2 separate regions of the Homo sapiens genome follow, and region 1 is linked to region 2. The links come from fine-mapping of genetic effects on gene expression. A gene starts in region 2. The other region holds a variant in brackets. All regions are shown on one strand. Distances are between the middles of the regions.

Evidence for each region.
Region 1: its variant is fine-mapped to the expression of EOGT in testis (GTEx, PIP 0.91).

The regions. Positions count from the first base shown.
Region 1 is chr3:69,061,294-69,069,632 of GRCh38, reverse strand. It overlaps UBA3 (ubiquitin like modifier activating enzyme 3), which reads left to right. Exons shown (of 18, transcript NM_003968.4): 6 at 1,625-1,705; 7 at 5,522-5,565; 8 at 6,130-6,194; 9 at 6,496-6,651; 10 at 7,454-7,556; 11 at 7,706-7,819. Among named protein-coding and RNA genes, the nearest start is that of TMF1, 13 kb to the right of the region's middle. The variant T/C (reference allele first, on the strand shown) is at 4,779.
Region 2 is chr3:69,009,991-69,018,329 of GRCh38, reverse strand. It overlaps EOGT (EGF domain specific O-linked N-acetylglucosamine transferase), which reads left to right and starts at 4,646. Exons shown (of 18, transcript NM_001278689.2): 1 at 4,646-4,756; 2 at 5,531-5,815; 3 at 6,339-6,394. EOGT-DT (EOGT divergent transcript) reads right to left here and starts at 5,210. Exons shown (of 1, transcript NR_185971.1): 1 at 277-5,210. RefSeq lists silencers at 4,419-4,718, 4,779-5,328.

The DNA.
Region 1 (8,339 bases), 51 kb before region 2:
AAAATTGGCCTGGCATGGTGGCTCATGCCTGTAATCACAGCACATTGGGAGGCTAAGGTGGGCGGATCACTTGAGGTCAGAAGTTCGAGACCAGCCCGGCCAACACGGTGAAACCCTGTGTCTACTAAAAATACAAAAATTAGCCAGGCGTAGTGACTCATGCCCGTAGTCCCAGCACTCTGGAGGCTGAGACAGGAGAATTGTTTGAATCTGGGAGGCAGAGGTTATAGTGAGCCGAGATTGTGCCACTGCACTCCAGCGTGGGTGACAGAGCGAGACTCTGTCTCAAACAAACAAAAAAAAAGAAAAGAAAAATTGACATGCTAAAGTGTTTTTCTTTGAAATTTCAGATTTTTTTCTAATAAGCACACGATTTATTATTTTCATTTATTTTAAAAGTATTTACTGTGTGCTAGGTAGGAAGGAATATGAAGAGAGTAAGAACATGGTCACTTTCATCCAAATAATAGTCTAGTGGGTATGATAGACGTGTATGTAGCAAATATGTTACGAAAAAAGTAATAATGTTCTTATTATATACATGGAGTGATTTCTCTGAGGAGAATATGGAAATATTAGGAAAGAAAATACCATTTGTATAGAACTTAGAGGAGGAAATTCATATCCTTTCCTATCTATATGTGTGGTTATTGTTTTAAGAGTGACCTTTTGAGGCCTTATATATTCAGCTTCTGTGATGTAATAGTAACATTTGCAATTTTAGCTGACACTTTTGGTATTATTCTTTCTTTAAAAACTTGGTGCCGGGCATGGTGGCTCATGCCTGTAATCCCAGCATTTTGGGAGGCTGAGGCGGGCAGATCACCTGAGGTCAGGAGTTCGAGACCAGCCTGACCAACATGGCAAAACTAAAAATACAAAAACTAGCTGGTTGTGGTGGCAGGCACCTGTAATCTCACCTCCCTAGAGACTGAGGCATGAGAATTGCTTGAACCTGGGAGGCGGAGGTTGCAGTGAGCCGAGATCGCACCACTGCACTCCAGCCTGGGTGACAGAGTGAGTGAGACTCCGTCTCAAAAAGAAAAAAGAAAAAAACGTGGTTACAGCCTCTTTTTTTTTTTTTTTTCCATTTTATATACGGTCCAGTGAAATTTTTTTTTTCTTTTTTTTTCTTTTTCATGCAGCTTCTTAGGGGACACAAAATTTGCTGCTTAATCAGCACACACAGGAAGAAGGGGTTAAATGAAGGTTCTTGCATCCCAAGGATGAATCTTATTGTGTATATTTCAGCCAAGACCTGTGGAGTAACACCATAAGGTTCTGAGCTCTAAGAGTGGGATAATTTTTTACAGTGGAAAGTGGCCAGGAATCATAGCATTATTATGCTTTATCTGGGAGGAAGAACACTGTTCAGATTTTCTCTTAATTAAAGCAATACTTAATTAGACTTATGTTAATTTGGACCATTAGCAAGGGTTGACATTTAAGGTTAAATGACCGTTTACCAAAAGTTATTACTGAAATCAAAATACTTAGGCAAAAATATTCCTTCTAAATTTCCTATAAGTAAACTTACTGTGAATTTACTTTTATGTTTGAAAATAAGTTATGTAGATCATATAGATTTATAATATGAATTATAATTTAAATATTTTTCCTGTAGGCCTAAAGATATTGGAAGACCTAAGGCTGAAGTTGCTGCAGAATTTCTAAATGACAGAGTTCCTAATTGCAATGTAGTTCCGTATCCTTTTGACAAAAAGAAAATTACTTAATTTTTAAAAGCTTTTTTCCTTTATTATAAGAGATATTTAACAGAGAATACAGATAAGCAAGAGGGAAAAAAAGTCAGCAGTAGTAACTTTATTACTGAGATAACTGCTGGTAACATTTTGCTATCTATTCTTCCAGTCTTTTCTGTATGGTTATATAAATATTTTTTGGGCCCTGATTTTTAACTTAAGTTTATAAAGCCTGTTTCATCATCTACTTTATTTTGCATTATTGCCCTTAATTTCAGTATCAATTACATATCTCCTTTACTAGAGTGTAAATTCCTAGGCTGGATCCAATTAATCTTTGTTTCTTTATAGTAGCAGACAGAGTAGACAGTCAATATAGTATTAGCCAAATGGAAGGTACATCACAGTAAATTTATTTTTACAAGAAATATGTTTTTAAAAAGGAGTATTTACACTGTAGTTTGAATTTAGATCTGGAGAACTTTTGGCATTTTATAGAAAGTCAGAAGATGTGATTTCTATGTAGAAAGTCCCACAGAATACAAAATCAACATACCGGTGAACTTGTGAAAGTTAATGTAAAATACAATGCCATTTACAACTGCTTAGAAAGAAAAATAAATACTTAGATGTAAACTACAAGATAAGTAAGAGATTTATATAGTGAAAAACTACAAAATGCTGATGAAAGAAACCAAAGAAAATCTAAATAAATGGAGAGATAGTCCATCTTCAAAGATTGGAAGATTAAATATAGTAAAGATGTCATTTCTCCCTAAATTTGTATACATATATACCATAGTTTCTATTAAAATCCCAGCAAAATTGTCGATATAGACGATCTTCTAAAATTTTATATAGAAAAGCAAAGGAATACCTACTACAAATCTGAAAAAGAAAGTGGGAGGAATCACTATCCAAATTCTAGACTTATATAGCTATAGTAATCCAGACTCAGTGGCGTTACCAGAGGGATATATAGATGACTAGAACAGAATAGGGAAGCCAGAAATAGCCCCATATAAGTATGGCCAATTTGTTTTTGATAAAGGTGCAAAACAGTTCCAATGGAAGAAGCATAGTCTTCAACAAATCGTACTGGAGCAATTTCATATCCATAGTTAAAAGATGAATTTTGACCTAAACATACAAAATTAACTCAAAATGGATTATAGGTGTAAATATAAAATATAAAATGAGCCAGGCGTGGTGGCTCATGCCTGTAATCCCAGCACTTTGGGAGGCCGAGGTGGGTGGATCACTTGAGGTCAGGAGTTCGAGACCAGCCTGGCCAACATGGTGAAACCCCGTCTCTACTAAGAATACAAAAATTAGCCGGGCACAGTGGCTCCCAGCTACTCAGGAGGCTGAGGTGGGAGAATCGCTTGACCCTAGGAGGCTGAGGTTGCAGTGAGCTGAAATTGCGCTACTGCACCCCAGCCTGGGCGACAGAGCAAGGCTCCATCTCAAAAAAACAAAAAAAAACACAAAAAACCATAAAACGATAGAACTTTAGGGTTTGGTGGAGAGTGCTTAGGCCACGTCAAAAGCAAGACCTGTAAAAGGTGGGGTATGGTGGTGCAGATCACTGAGGAAGCAGTGAGCTTTTATCATACCACTACAGAGTCCTGGCTGCTTGGGAGGCTAAGGTGGGAGGATTGCTTGAGACTAGGAGTTTGAAGCTATAGTAGGCTGTGGTCATACTGTGAATAGCCACTGCATTCCAGCCTGGGCAATGTAGTGAGACATCATCTCTAAAAAATTAAAATAATTTTTTGTAAAAGCATGAGCCATAAAAGGAAAAAATTGATACACTGAACTTCATCAAAATTAAAAACTTGCTGTGTGAAAGACCCTCTTAAACGGATGAAGAAAAGCCACAGACTGGAGAAAATACTTGTAAAGCATCTGATGGAGGACTCATATCTAGAGTATATAATGAACTCTAAAAACTCAACAGTAAAACAAAAAAAAATTCAATTAGAAAATAGACAAAAGATAGGAAGAGATATTTTACTAAAAAGGATGACGAAAAGCACATGAAAAGATGTTTCACATCAAACTAAGACCACCATGAGCGATACTGTTACACAACTATTAGACTAAAAAAAAAAAGCCAGTCTCAAAAGGTCATATACTGCATGATTCTGTTTATATAATACTCTTGAAATTACAGAATTATAGAGATGGCTGGGTGTGGTGGTTCAGGCCTGTAATTCCAGCACTTTGGGAGGCTGAGGCGGGAAGATCACTTGAGCCTGGTTGTTTGAGAACAGCCTAGGCAACAAATGAGACCCTATTTCTGTAAAAACTAGAAAAATTACCCGGGCATGGTGGCACATGCCTGTAGTCCCAGCTATGTGGGAGGCTGAGGCAGGAAGATCAGTTAAGCCCAGGATGTGGAGGCTGCAGAGAGATCTTTATTGTGGTCGAATAGTTATGTGTGTTGCCTGGGGTGGTGGTTACACAAATCTATGTGTGTTTAAATGACAGAATTATAAACACACATTGTACCAATGTTCTGTTCATGGTTTTGGTACTGTACTATAGTAAGATGTAACTGGGAAAGGTGCATGGTACCTACCTATACTATCTGTGCAACTTACTGCGAATCTATATTATTTCAAAATAAAGAGCTTAAAAATGCAAATACAGGCCCCTGTAGGGAAAAAGGAAGAGTTGGTGGGGGTGGGTTGGTTAGTGGGGGGCACTCAGTTTGTCTATCCCCATTATGTGGGTCTGGGAAACTTTGGGTATTTTCTAGAAATCCAGATTAGATTTCTTAGTCTGGCTCTTGGTTCCCTGATTGCCATTCCTCCACTGTTTGCTTTGTTTCTTTTTTGACCTCTTTCTAGCTGTAGCTTCGTTCTCCTGCTTGCCTAGCATTCAAAGGGAATAGAGGTCTGAATGACTGAGGGCTAGAATTGAAATTATTGTTCATAGCTTTATTTGTAGGCAAGAATTAAAAATCTAGAGGAAGCATGTATTGTCCCTTTTTTCTATGTATTGTCCCTTTTTTCTCTGTATTGCTTTTAAAAAATTTATAGTGGACTATTTATCTTAACTTTAGAGAAG[T/C]TGCATAATTTATAAATTATTAAACAATTGCTCCATTCATTAGAAAAATTAAAACAAGTTTTTGCACACATGTGCTATTAAAACATTAAGTGCTATATTGACTCACCCACAATCAGTTTTGAATGGAGTTTCCTTTTTAGCCTCCAGGGATGGGAAGACTGGTAATAGGATTTGGTAGGGTAACTTGAAAACTGAGTTAAATGAGAAAGGTAGAAAAAATTCGTACTTTTTCTCCTCCCCACAAAAAATAAAAACAGTAAAATCTTTACCAACTGAAAAAGCTGTTGAAATTTTCTGTATGTTAAAAAAATGAGCTTTGCAGTAACTCTTAAAATCACCTAGCAAAATAGGAACTATAATGTGCATCTTTCCTTCACTAAAACATTTATTGCATCTCTTCTTGATGCTGATGATTGAGGACACACATTCTGCTTTCCTGGGGCTTATGGTTTTATATAAAAACCAAAGCAAAGTAGAAAGTATACCTCCTACCAAGGGCATAAATATAATGATATAGGGGTTCAGGAATGAGAAAAAGTAAGTAGTTAGGGGAGGAATGGCAGAAAAGTTTTGTCAGAAAGGAGAGTTGTGTTCATTTAGTCAGATTCCTTGAATTCCACTGATGTGAACATTGATTACTTATTTCTTGTTGTAAATATATGCAGAGTGTGTTCCTTATGGCATTGTCAAATTCATTTTAGAAATTAAAACTTAGCTGCTTAAGTTCCTTTACTTGTATTCAGACATTTCAACAAGATTCAAGATTTTAACGACACTTTCTATCGACGTAAGTTTTTTACTTGAAATTAATGCTCACTAGATTCTTAGAATTTTTTAGTTGGTAGCTATTCAAATATTGCTAGCTATTTCAAGGCTATTTCTTCACTTGCTTTCCTCTCTCACTGTTGGCTTTTCAGTAATGTTGCTGATAGACTGAAAAGAGAATGCTAGTTTTAGCTGACATGACCAGCTACAAGTTTCTATGCTTACCTGAATGAGAGTTCACTCAAGGAATTGGAGCTCTGAGAACGTATGTGGGATTACAGTAAAAAGTGCTTGTGGTTTTTTTGTTGGTTTCTTAGAACGTGCAAATTGTTTTCTGCAAGTGCTTTTTTTTTTTAATTAGTAAACTTTATTTTTTAGGGCAGTTTTATGTTCACAACAAAATTGAACAGAAAATTTTTGAAAACTTGGGTTCTCATAGAGCTTCCTGTTCCCACAAACACACTACCTTCCTAATCAACATCTTGCACCAGAGTGGTACATTTGTTGCAGTTGATGAATCTACATTGAAAGATCATCATGCAACTACATATTTAAAAACTAAAGTTGCTTTTTTTTTTTTTTGTAGAATTTCATATTATTGTATGTGGACTGGACTCTATCATCGCCAGAAGATGGATAAATGGCATGCTGGTAAAGACTTTAGTATTGTTATAGTTCTCTGAAGTTCTTGCTGCTGTGCTTCACATCCCCAAAATTAGAATTGATATATTTTTGAAAAATCAGAGTTTAATTTTTAATTAAGTATATTTACTTCATTGTTTATTGCCAGTCATTGGTTTTCAGGTGAAGACACAAATTGTTATTATAATCCCTTGATTTGATACATTGGTATTCAATAGCACAACCGACTCATAGGATTACTTGAAAGCATACTTCTTCTTTTGAATTCTTATCCCCTTCTCCTTTAAAGCCCTTCAAATTGTTTTCCTAGATATCTCTTCTAAATTATGAAGATGGTGTCTTAGATCCAAGCTCCATTGTCCCTTTGATAGATGGGGGGACAGAAGGTTTTAAAGGAAATGCCCGGGTGATTCTGCCTGGAATGACTGCTTGTATCGAATGCACGCTGGAACTTTATCCACCACAGGTAATCAAAAAAGCACCTGCATTTCTTTTATAGTATCTTGGCATGGAATTAGGGATTAATTATTAAGTCTAGTTAATATTTAGGATTGTTAATTAGAAGTGGCCGTATTTTAAAAATTACACTAAGAAGAAAGATAAAATATGAAATTCTGCTCTATTTGAGGAAAGATATGAACCGAGTACATTGTTTTGATACTATTCTGCTTTCATAATTTATTTGTATTTTTTATTTGGGGAGTAGGTATCAAGTAGAATTACAAAGTTGTATATTGATGTCAAGCTGTAATCTATGTGGTTTTCACCTGTATTTATTTCAGGGAAATAAAGATACCAGGGATAAGAATGATCTTTCCAAGGATGGGGCTTTTTGGTTTACATATCCACTTTAAAGAACACTTGAAATTTTGAATAATAAATGTAAACAATTTTATGAGTATTCACTTGGGATTCACTTAACTCTGAACTTGCTTTTGTTTTGGTTTGCTTTATACTTAAATATTAGGTAAAAATAACAAGGTGTTCATATTTGAGAAAATCTGTTCAGTATTTTTCTTCTCATAGTCTAACAAAGCTTAAATTTTATACCTTGTAAATGTAGGGCAAACCTGTCTTTACAGGCAGTGCAGCCTAAGTGAAGTGACTCAGTTAATCTGTATTATAGTTTGAGAGGCATTTTTAATGGTATACAATATTTTGAGTTGAAACAAATTGTATGAAATTGTTAAGAACTAGATCATAACTGGAAGTTGCATTTTAAAATAATTCGTTTAAAATTCACTGAAAAGGACAAACTGTGGTTTTAGGTTAATTTTCCCATGTGCACCATTGCATCTATGCCCAGGCTACCAGAACACTGTATTGAGTATGTAAGGATGTTGCAGTGGCCTAAGGAGCAGCCTTTTGGAGGTAATAAACCTAATTTAATAATCTAGAATTACATAAAATACATATTTTTTCTATATTATTCCTTTGGATAATTTCATTAAAAACATTGTTTTGTGATTACGTATTCCTGTCTTCTCTCTCTCTCTCTCTCCCTTTTTTTTTTTAAACAGAAGGGGTTCCATTAGATGGAGATGATCCTGAACATATACAATGGATTTTCCAAAAATCCCTAGAGAGAGCATCACAATATAATATTAGGGGTGTTACGTATAGGCTCACTCAAGGTAAGTCAGCAAATTGTCATGAATTATGATGTTGGGATGACTTAGGGCTGGGATGCTTTCAGGAGAATAATCGATAAGTGAGTTTAGACAGTACCATCCACTTGAAGTTCAGTAAAGGTACCATGTAATTCATACTACTTATTAGCTAGGGGGAATTTAATAAAATTATTGAATCTTACTTACTTAGGCTATAAGTCATCCAAGTCAAACTGTCCATTTTATCTTCCACTGAATTCATCATCTCTTAGAGACAGTCTATTTCACATTTGGACAGGACTGTTAGACAAATATTCTATATATTGAACAGAAATTGTCTTCAGGTCAGCTGCGGTGGCTTATACCTGCAATCCTAGCACTTCGGGAGGCCGAGGCAGGCGGATCACCTGAGGTCAGGAGTTCGAGAGCAGTCTGACCAACATGGCAACACCCTGTCTCTACTAAAAATACAAAATTAGCTGGGTGTGGTGGCACATGCCTGTAATCCCAGCTACTCAGGAAGCTGAGGCAGGAGAATCACTTG
Region 2 (8,339 bases):
TTTTTAAAGTTCAGACACACACAGGGACCCAAGGATTTTGGAAAAGGAAGTGTGTACCCACACTTTATCATCAAGTCAACCTTTTAAAATGGATGCCATTATCACCCCCATTTTTAAAAATAAAGATTAAGTAAATTGCTCAAGGTCATATGGCAAGTAAGTGGCAAAGCTGGGATTCTAATTTGTGCAGTTTGGCTCCAGAGTCTATGATTTCAATAATTAATTATATGGTGCTACTTTTCCTACTGCTTTTCTGTAAAATCATAAGCATATAGATCAGTTACAGCCAAAATTTATTCATTAAAAATGTCAACACCTTTTAATTATGGTCTAACAGTTGGATGAGAGAACCAGTATACTACATTCTGCTGATATTGTTAGCAATTTACTCATTGTAATTTGTTGGATTTGTCTCAAATTTTTTAAGCCATGCATTCTTCCATCTCTGTCTCTCTTTTTCTTAATTCTTGCAATTTCGATGAAGTTTCTTATTTGTAGAAAAAACTAGGTCATTTGTCCTATAGTTTCCCTCCATCTGGATGTTGATTTCTTACCTTTTGTTAGTGTGTTCCGCCTCCTGTGTTTAAATCTAAAGGCAATTATTTTTCAACAAAAATACTTCATTAGGTGGAAGTGTATTCTTCCAGCAGGAGACAGATAATTCCTGATGGTTTCTCAGTTGTGATAAAGAAATAATTGATGATCACTTCTTAAATCTATTAGTTCACAGAGCTTGTGGAGTGATATTGTCATTTCTTTTTCATTTAGTAGTTGGAATGTTTCCATAAAAAATTTACTTCAGTTATTTTGTTATTTGCATCATAATTCATACAGGAAAGACAGTATAAATATTCCTGATTCTTTCCCTTTGTTTACCAGTTTTCAGAATAAGAGTTGGTTTCCTTCTGTCATTAAAAATGAACAGCGATACCTTTTTGGCTTGCATGTTTGGTTGATTGGTCGTGTCTGATATGATTACTTAAATGTATCTGTCCTTCATCCAATTACAGTTACCTTTATTTATGTTTTAAATCATCCTATCTTTGGCCAGTAGGAAGGTTTTCAAGGTGGATCCTGAGTCCTTTTGATATGACCCTAATAGCCTTTTGATTGCTTTGCTGCTTCCTGATGTAAGATGTTGCAGGCTTATCTTGTACATTTCCTGCTCCAGACCCAAGATCATCCATTGTTCTATGGAGTCAGTGTTTCTTTTAATGGGAAATGGTTGGTAGAGATCACAGTGTGAGCGCAAGGGGGTGCTTCTTCCTCCTGGGTAGCTTGTCTCTAGGCCTTTTCAATGGAGCACGTAGGAGAGATGTGTTTTTAAAGATTAACCATACTGTTAATCATACTGAGGCCTCCAACTGAAATTCAGAACTACAGGATGTTTATATAGCCTGATTAAGCTTTCATATTTCTATCTCATGTCAAAAATTTCAGCTTCAAAGGTACCATCATAATTACTTCAACTTGGTGTATCCCATAATACCAATATTGCCACCAACAATTTGGTTACGGAATGCAGTCTACAAAAGAGTTTTTTTGTACTTTAGTCCTGAGAATACATCCCACTAAGTATATACAAATTAAGTTTTAAAGTCACTTGGGATAGCTCCTCTGGGTGATATGCCACAATTGGAAAACATTTAGGTTCATTTAGTTTCATTTTACTTTCAAGGATTGCTTTTTAAAAACAGAATTTTGCTTTATAATGTAACATATTTACATGACTTCAAAGTCATGTCTTCACGCCAGGCGTGGTGGCTCACGCCTGTAATCCAAGCAGTTTGGGAGGCTGAGGTGGGCGGATCACTTGAGGTCAGGAGTTCGAGACCAGCCTGGCCAATACAGTGAAACCCCGTCTCTACTAAAAATATAAATATTTGTCAGGCATGGTGGCGCATGCCTGTAATCGCAGTTACTCAGGAGTCTGAGGGAGAAGAATTGCTTGAACCCAGGAGATGGAGGTTGCAGTGAGCCAAGATTGCACCATTGTACTCCAGCCTGGGCAAAAGAGTAAGACTCTGTCACACACACACACACACACATACACACACACACACACACACACACCAAAAAACAAAGTCATGTCTTCTTTGTTCCTTATACCCCTCCTCTTCCCTCCTTGCCCATATAGTCATTTTAAATGTTAATCTACTTGTAAAATAATAATTAGTAAATATATATGTGTATACACATGTATACACACATATTCCTCTTAGAAAAATGATATTTACATATTACATATCCTTTTCCCACTCAATATTCTGTAGTGTACAGAGATATTTCTCAATTCCTTTTTATGCATGCATAGTTTTACATTGTATGGATAAACCATAGTTTATTCAACCAGCCTTCTATTGGTAGACACTTGAGTTTTATGTCAGCTCAAAGAAAATTTAAATTCTAACATTGGTATTTTGGAGAGAAATTCTATTTGAGAATGGCTGTTACAGTAAGAGAGACTCAATCTCATGTTCAGGTTTATCATATCTGGTTTCCTGTAAGTCTGAATGACCATTCAATATGTAGGTGTTTAAAATAGCACCACATAGCCAGGCGTGGTGGCTCACAACTGTAAACCCAGCACTTTAGGAGGCCGAGGCTGGAAGATCACTTGAGGCCCGGAGTTGGAAACAAGTGCTGGGAACATAGCAAGAACCTGTTTCTACAAAAAAAATAAAATAAAATAGTACCATGCACATGTCATACTGATTTTAACCTTTTTGTATGTGACAAAAATAGGATGGTAGCAAGTAGGCTGAGGAAGCTTTTTTTTTTTTTTTTTATGAGACAGGGTCTCACTGTGGCCCAGGCTAGAGTGCAGTGTCTCAATCATGGCTCACTGCAGCCTCAACCTCACTGGGCTCAAGCGATCATCCTGAGTAGCTGGGACTACTGGCATGAGCCACAGTGCCTGGCTTGAGGAAGCATTTTAAAAAATTACTGTCATTAGTGTGGGATGGTGAAGTATGCAAAGTATAAAATAATAGAGCAGTAATTCTGTTATAGGAAAGGGGTCCCAATCCAGACCCCAAGAGAGGGTTCTTGGATCTCGAGCAAGAAAGAATTCAGGGCAAAGTGTAAGCAAGTTTGTTAAGAAAGTAAAGGAAAAAAAAAAAGAAAGTAAAGGAAGAAAAGAATGGCTACTCCATAGACAAAGCAGCCCTGAGTGCTGCTGGTTGCCCATTTTTATGGTTATTTCTTGATGATATGCTAAACAGGTGGATTATTCATGCCTCCCCTTTTAAGACCATATAGGGTAACTTCCTGACATTGCCATGGCATTCGTAAACTGTCATGGCGCTGATAGGAGTATAGTAGTAAGGACTACCAGAGGTCTCTTTCATGGCCATCTTGGTTTTGGTGGGATTTAGCCGGCTTATTTACTGCAACCTGTTTTATCAACAAGGTCTTTATGACCTGTATCTTGTGCCGACTTCCTATCTCATTCTGCGACTTAGAATGCTTTAACGGCCTGGGAATGCAGCCCAGTAGGTTTCAGCCTCATTTTACTCAGCTCCTATTTAAGATGGAGTTGCTCCGGTTCACATGCCTCTTGACAGTTCCCTTAGAGGCAAAATCTTTTCAATAAAAAGAATAAATTAATACTGTAAAGTGCTTTAAAACAATGTTTGGCACATGTTAAACACCACATGTTCTTGCTGTTATTATTTGAAAAAAATTCCAGGTAAGATTCCTAATTTAGCAGGTCACTAATGGAACTTGTAACAATTCTTAAACAACATTACTTTTAAAAATTACGTAAAAAGCATGTAAGCCTTTGGAAACAAACTTGTTTCCTTATGATCATATTATTTAACTTCTGGTGACTATATTCATTTGAGCATGTTTATTTTGAAGTCATCACCTTCATATAATCAGTTCAACTTTAGTCACTATTTAATGATCAACTCTACTGTGCTGTAGATGGAATACTAGGCCTGGGGGAGCTTAGAGGAAAAGACAGTGGGGGATGGGAGTTCAAATAATTATAAGCAGTAATAAAGTAAATTAACAAAACCATAAAAATTAAACTCCACAGAGTAGCATTTGAACTTGATGAGTTTACGGATAGGTAAAACTATACTGCTTTTAAAATGTGTGTGGACTCCAAAGTATCCTCACCATCACAAAGTGTATTCGGTGAACGATGTTCAGTCCCCAAATTTGGAAGTTAGGGCGGCAACTTCTGCTTGAAATAAGACAAAAGTAAAAATCCACCTCAGTGCAACGCAGAAGACACGAAGAGTCAGGTTTTCTACCCACCCCGTCCTAACATCCTCTGAGCGCTTTAACGCTCTCGCTCAAGGAGGCGCGGGCTGCTGCGATGGAGATGGGCGTCCGGCGCCGGCACGTGCCGTCGGTCTTTCCGGCCCTGGTGAGGGAGCTGGCGGACTCGCGCGAACGTTCGCGGGAGAACGCCAGGAAGGGCAGATGGTTCCTCGACTCTGAGCCCCTCCCTGCTGCGCTCGCCGGGTCGAGGCCGCTCGCCGGGCTGAAGCCGCTCCGAGCGTCGGGCCCCGCGCCCTGGCCCTCCTGGGTGTAGTCCCGGTCCTGCCTCTGCGGGGCCCGAGCCCGCCCACGGCGCCGGCTGGCCAAGGTGTCCCAGCTGCTCCTTGGCGCCCCCTGGCCCAGCTCCCGCGCCCGAGGTTTCCGGTGAGCGGCAGTAGCCGGTTATGACGACTCCCTCCTCTGGAACAGCCGCCGTCTCCTCCGCCTCCTCCTCGGTAGTTCACGGCTGCCCCGGCTCCAGGTGGGACTCCCCCGCAATCTGCGGAGCCTTCCCCCGCTCTCCTTCCCGCCGCCGCAGCGCTCTGCGCTGTTCTTGCCCGGGTGGTAGCCGCTCCCGGCGCGGCTTCCCGGAGGGCTATAGCCTACGCACGCACTCCGCCCGCGCCTTCCCATTCCCTGCGGGCCGGGAGGCGGGCGTCGGAAGCCGATCCTGGCCCTCCCCGGCCCCGGGCGCCCGGCCCCTTCCCAGCGCCCGGAGCGCAGGCGGGCCCCGGGCCCTAGCCGCGTTGACCAGGTTTCCAGCCGGGGCGGAGCCGCTCCCCGGGGCCCCTCCCAGGCGCGCTGGGGACCCGGGGCGCCGCGGTGCACGGTGGCGGGCGGCCCCGGGAGATCACCGACCCCGAAGCAATCCCTGGCGGCGCCCGGGGTCCGGAACCCCAGCGCGGCGTCTCAGCCGCGGCGGGGTGCTCGCCACTGACCCCTCAGCCCTTGGCCGGGACTGACGTTCAAGCGGACAGCTGGGCTCTGCCGGGACTGACGTTCAAGGGGCAGCCGAGCACTTCCTGAGCCCTGCCTGGCACCCGCCGAGAGACTTTTTGGCACAAGTAGGGGCCAGCCGTTGAGGTGTCATTCGGGGTCTCACGTGTTGAACTTTCCATTTGCCCACTGCCGTCTTTAAACTTTTCCAAGCTCTCTCTCTCTGCGACATTGCCCCATTTCGCCCGCTGTGTCAACCCCAGGTTTTGCCTCCTATCCATCATCTTTCAGATGTTTCCCTTTTTTCCTTCCTCATTAGGCCTGTGGAAATCGAATCAAGGGTTTCTGGAGTGGAGTGATTCCAGCTGCTTTGAGCTGAAGGAAAAGTAGCCTGGCCAGTAAAGCGTCCGTGTGCTGGAGGAGTGCAGCCACCCATCCCGGCGGGCCTTGCAGGACGACCGACACCAGGAAGGCTTTGTGCCAGGCCCAGCAGCCACCCCCAGCCGCCTTATGCAAGTGGGTACATGCCCTCGCCAGACGCCAGCTTTCTGATCTGCGTCTTTAGATTTTTTCCATCGCCTAAGCGTTACTTCTCCACTGATCGGTGAGTTTAGTGATGGCCAGAGCTCACTGGAGGACAATGGACTTGGATAACCAAAGGTCAGGGCTTGGTCATAACAATGACTTTATTACCGGGAAGGACGAGTCAAAAAATAGGAAGGCCTGGGAACCCTCAGGCTCGCCACTCTAGGTGGGTAGCCCTGTGATTCAGCCAGTGGGATTACTGCTGTGAGAATGGGAAAGTTGTTTGCTTCTGGGAATGTTTGATCCACTAAGTATCCTGTTGGCCAGTTCCAGTGGATGCCTGTAGAAAGTGGGCCACCTCCTCCCGTTCCCCATTGGAATCTGGTCCGAGTTGCTGTGTTGGGGGTGGTGCCTGTGAACTCGAGTATAGCAGTGTGGTATTCATTAAGGAAAAGAAAGCGCACCACCGGCCAGGCCTTCTGGCTGAGAGTTATCACGTTACATTATTTTCTTTCTTAATATTTCCTTTAATTCACAACATCATCTGAATGATCAGGTTTACTTTAGCATCCTTTTAAGGTAATATGTTTCATTTCTGACAGGTTTTAGAGACCTGAAACATCACAGAAGCTTCTGAGTGGTTCTGAAGATTCAAGAGGTATATATTTTTATTACAAGTAGAGTCATTGTTACTATTAATATGTGTTTTTAAATTTTTATAAAACTGCTGTCAACTCATTCTTGGATAAAAGCTCCAAGTGAAAATGTTATTGTAATTCAGATCAGATTTACAGCAGATAACACCATACTCTTGAGGGCCGCCAAAGTGAAAAACCACAATACTTAACTACTCCAAGGGGGGAAAATGGGGGAAAAAGGATTCCTTTTTGGTGTCCCCACTGTTCACTTAGAATTCCATGGCCTTGGAACTTGAGGTTTGATGGAACATAGCAGTCAATTTCCTTTTCTTCTTTCTTTCTTTGTTTTTTTTTTTTTTTGAGACAGAGTCTCCCTCGCATTACCCAGGCTGGAGTGCAGTGGCGAGATCACGACTCACTGCATCCTTGACTTCCCAGGCTAAAGTGATCCTCCCACTTCAGCTGGGACTACAGCTGATTTTTTGTATTCTTAGCAGAGACCGGGTTTCATCACGTTGCCCAAGCTGGTCTCGAACTCAGGGACTCAAGCAATCTGCCAGTCTTGGCCTCCCAAAGTGCTACTATTACAGGCCTGCAGTCTGTTTCTAAAGGTTCCATCTTCACAGCCCATAATCAATGAAGACTGATTTCGAAAGTTGGGTTTTCCGGTATGACCCAGGAAACAGCAGTCCTAGCTGATGAACATCCAGTGTGTATTAAGACTCTGTCATCCAGTGGAAAGAGCACTTAAAAAAAAAAAAAGAACAAAGATCCCACTAAAGTGACCTGAGAATGGCAGGATCATTGTCTGGGATATATAGGAGAAATCTGGTCCAAGAGATTTAACACTTACTGGGTGAATTAGAAATGCAGTGAGGTTTCTGACCATTATCACTGTTCACAATGTAAAGGCATGATGGGAGAGCTTAAGGGCACAGTCTTTGAGGCAGACTGCTTAGTGTCCTGGAGTTTCTAAGTCTTAGCTATTATAGCTGATTATTATACCTACTAGCATGTAAGCTTCACAAGGGCAATGAGTTTAGTTCGTGACTGCACCTTCATTGCTGTATCCTGAGTACAGAAGCGCTCCTGGAACATTGTCTGTGCTCATACCTTGATTATGATTATAATTTTTTATTCAGCAGACACACACTTGCTCAGAGCCATCCCACTCCCTTTGCTCTCTCACAGATACTTTTCCCCTCCTCATCATTCAGATCTCAGCTTTAATGTTATTTAGGCCCCTTCTCTGCCCCACATGGCTTTAAACTTTTATTTAATAAACATTTCCATAGCATTTAGCATGTGCCAGATAGTTTTCGAAACACTTTACCAATAACTAACTCATTTAACTCATGACAGCTCTATGATGAAGGTTTATTATTATTTCCATTTTACAGATGGGAAAGCTTAGGTGCAGAAAGGTTAAGTAACTTGTTCCAGGTCTTACAGCTGGGAAGCTGCAGATTTGCGATTCAAATCCAGGTGGTTAAGCTTTAAATGTTCACCATGCTATGTTGTCTATCATATTACTTTATTTAGTTTCAGGTATCACTAAACTGGATCCTATCAAGCCCTTCCATAATTTTTGTAAGTTAAAAAGTTTTATTGGAACACAGCCTCATCCATTCTTTTATAATAGACCATGGCTACTTTTTTGGACAGAGGCATTGTTGTGTAGTTGCCACAGAGATCTTATGTCTGGCAAAGCCAAAAATATTTACTGCTTCTCCTTTACAGGAAAAGTTTGCTGGCCCCTAGTTGGTTTGATTCACAGGCCCAGTCATCAGCTGAAGTTGTTTATTTGATTGCTTGTTTATGACAGTTGTAGTAGGTTTAAAGGCACCATGAGAGCAAGGCTCTTTCTTGTTTTGTTCACCTCTGTATACCCATTTGCTAACGTGGTGCCTGGCACCAAGCAAGTGCTCAAAAAAAATTGAATAAAGGATCATTATTCAGTGGGAT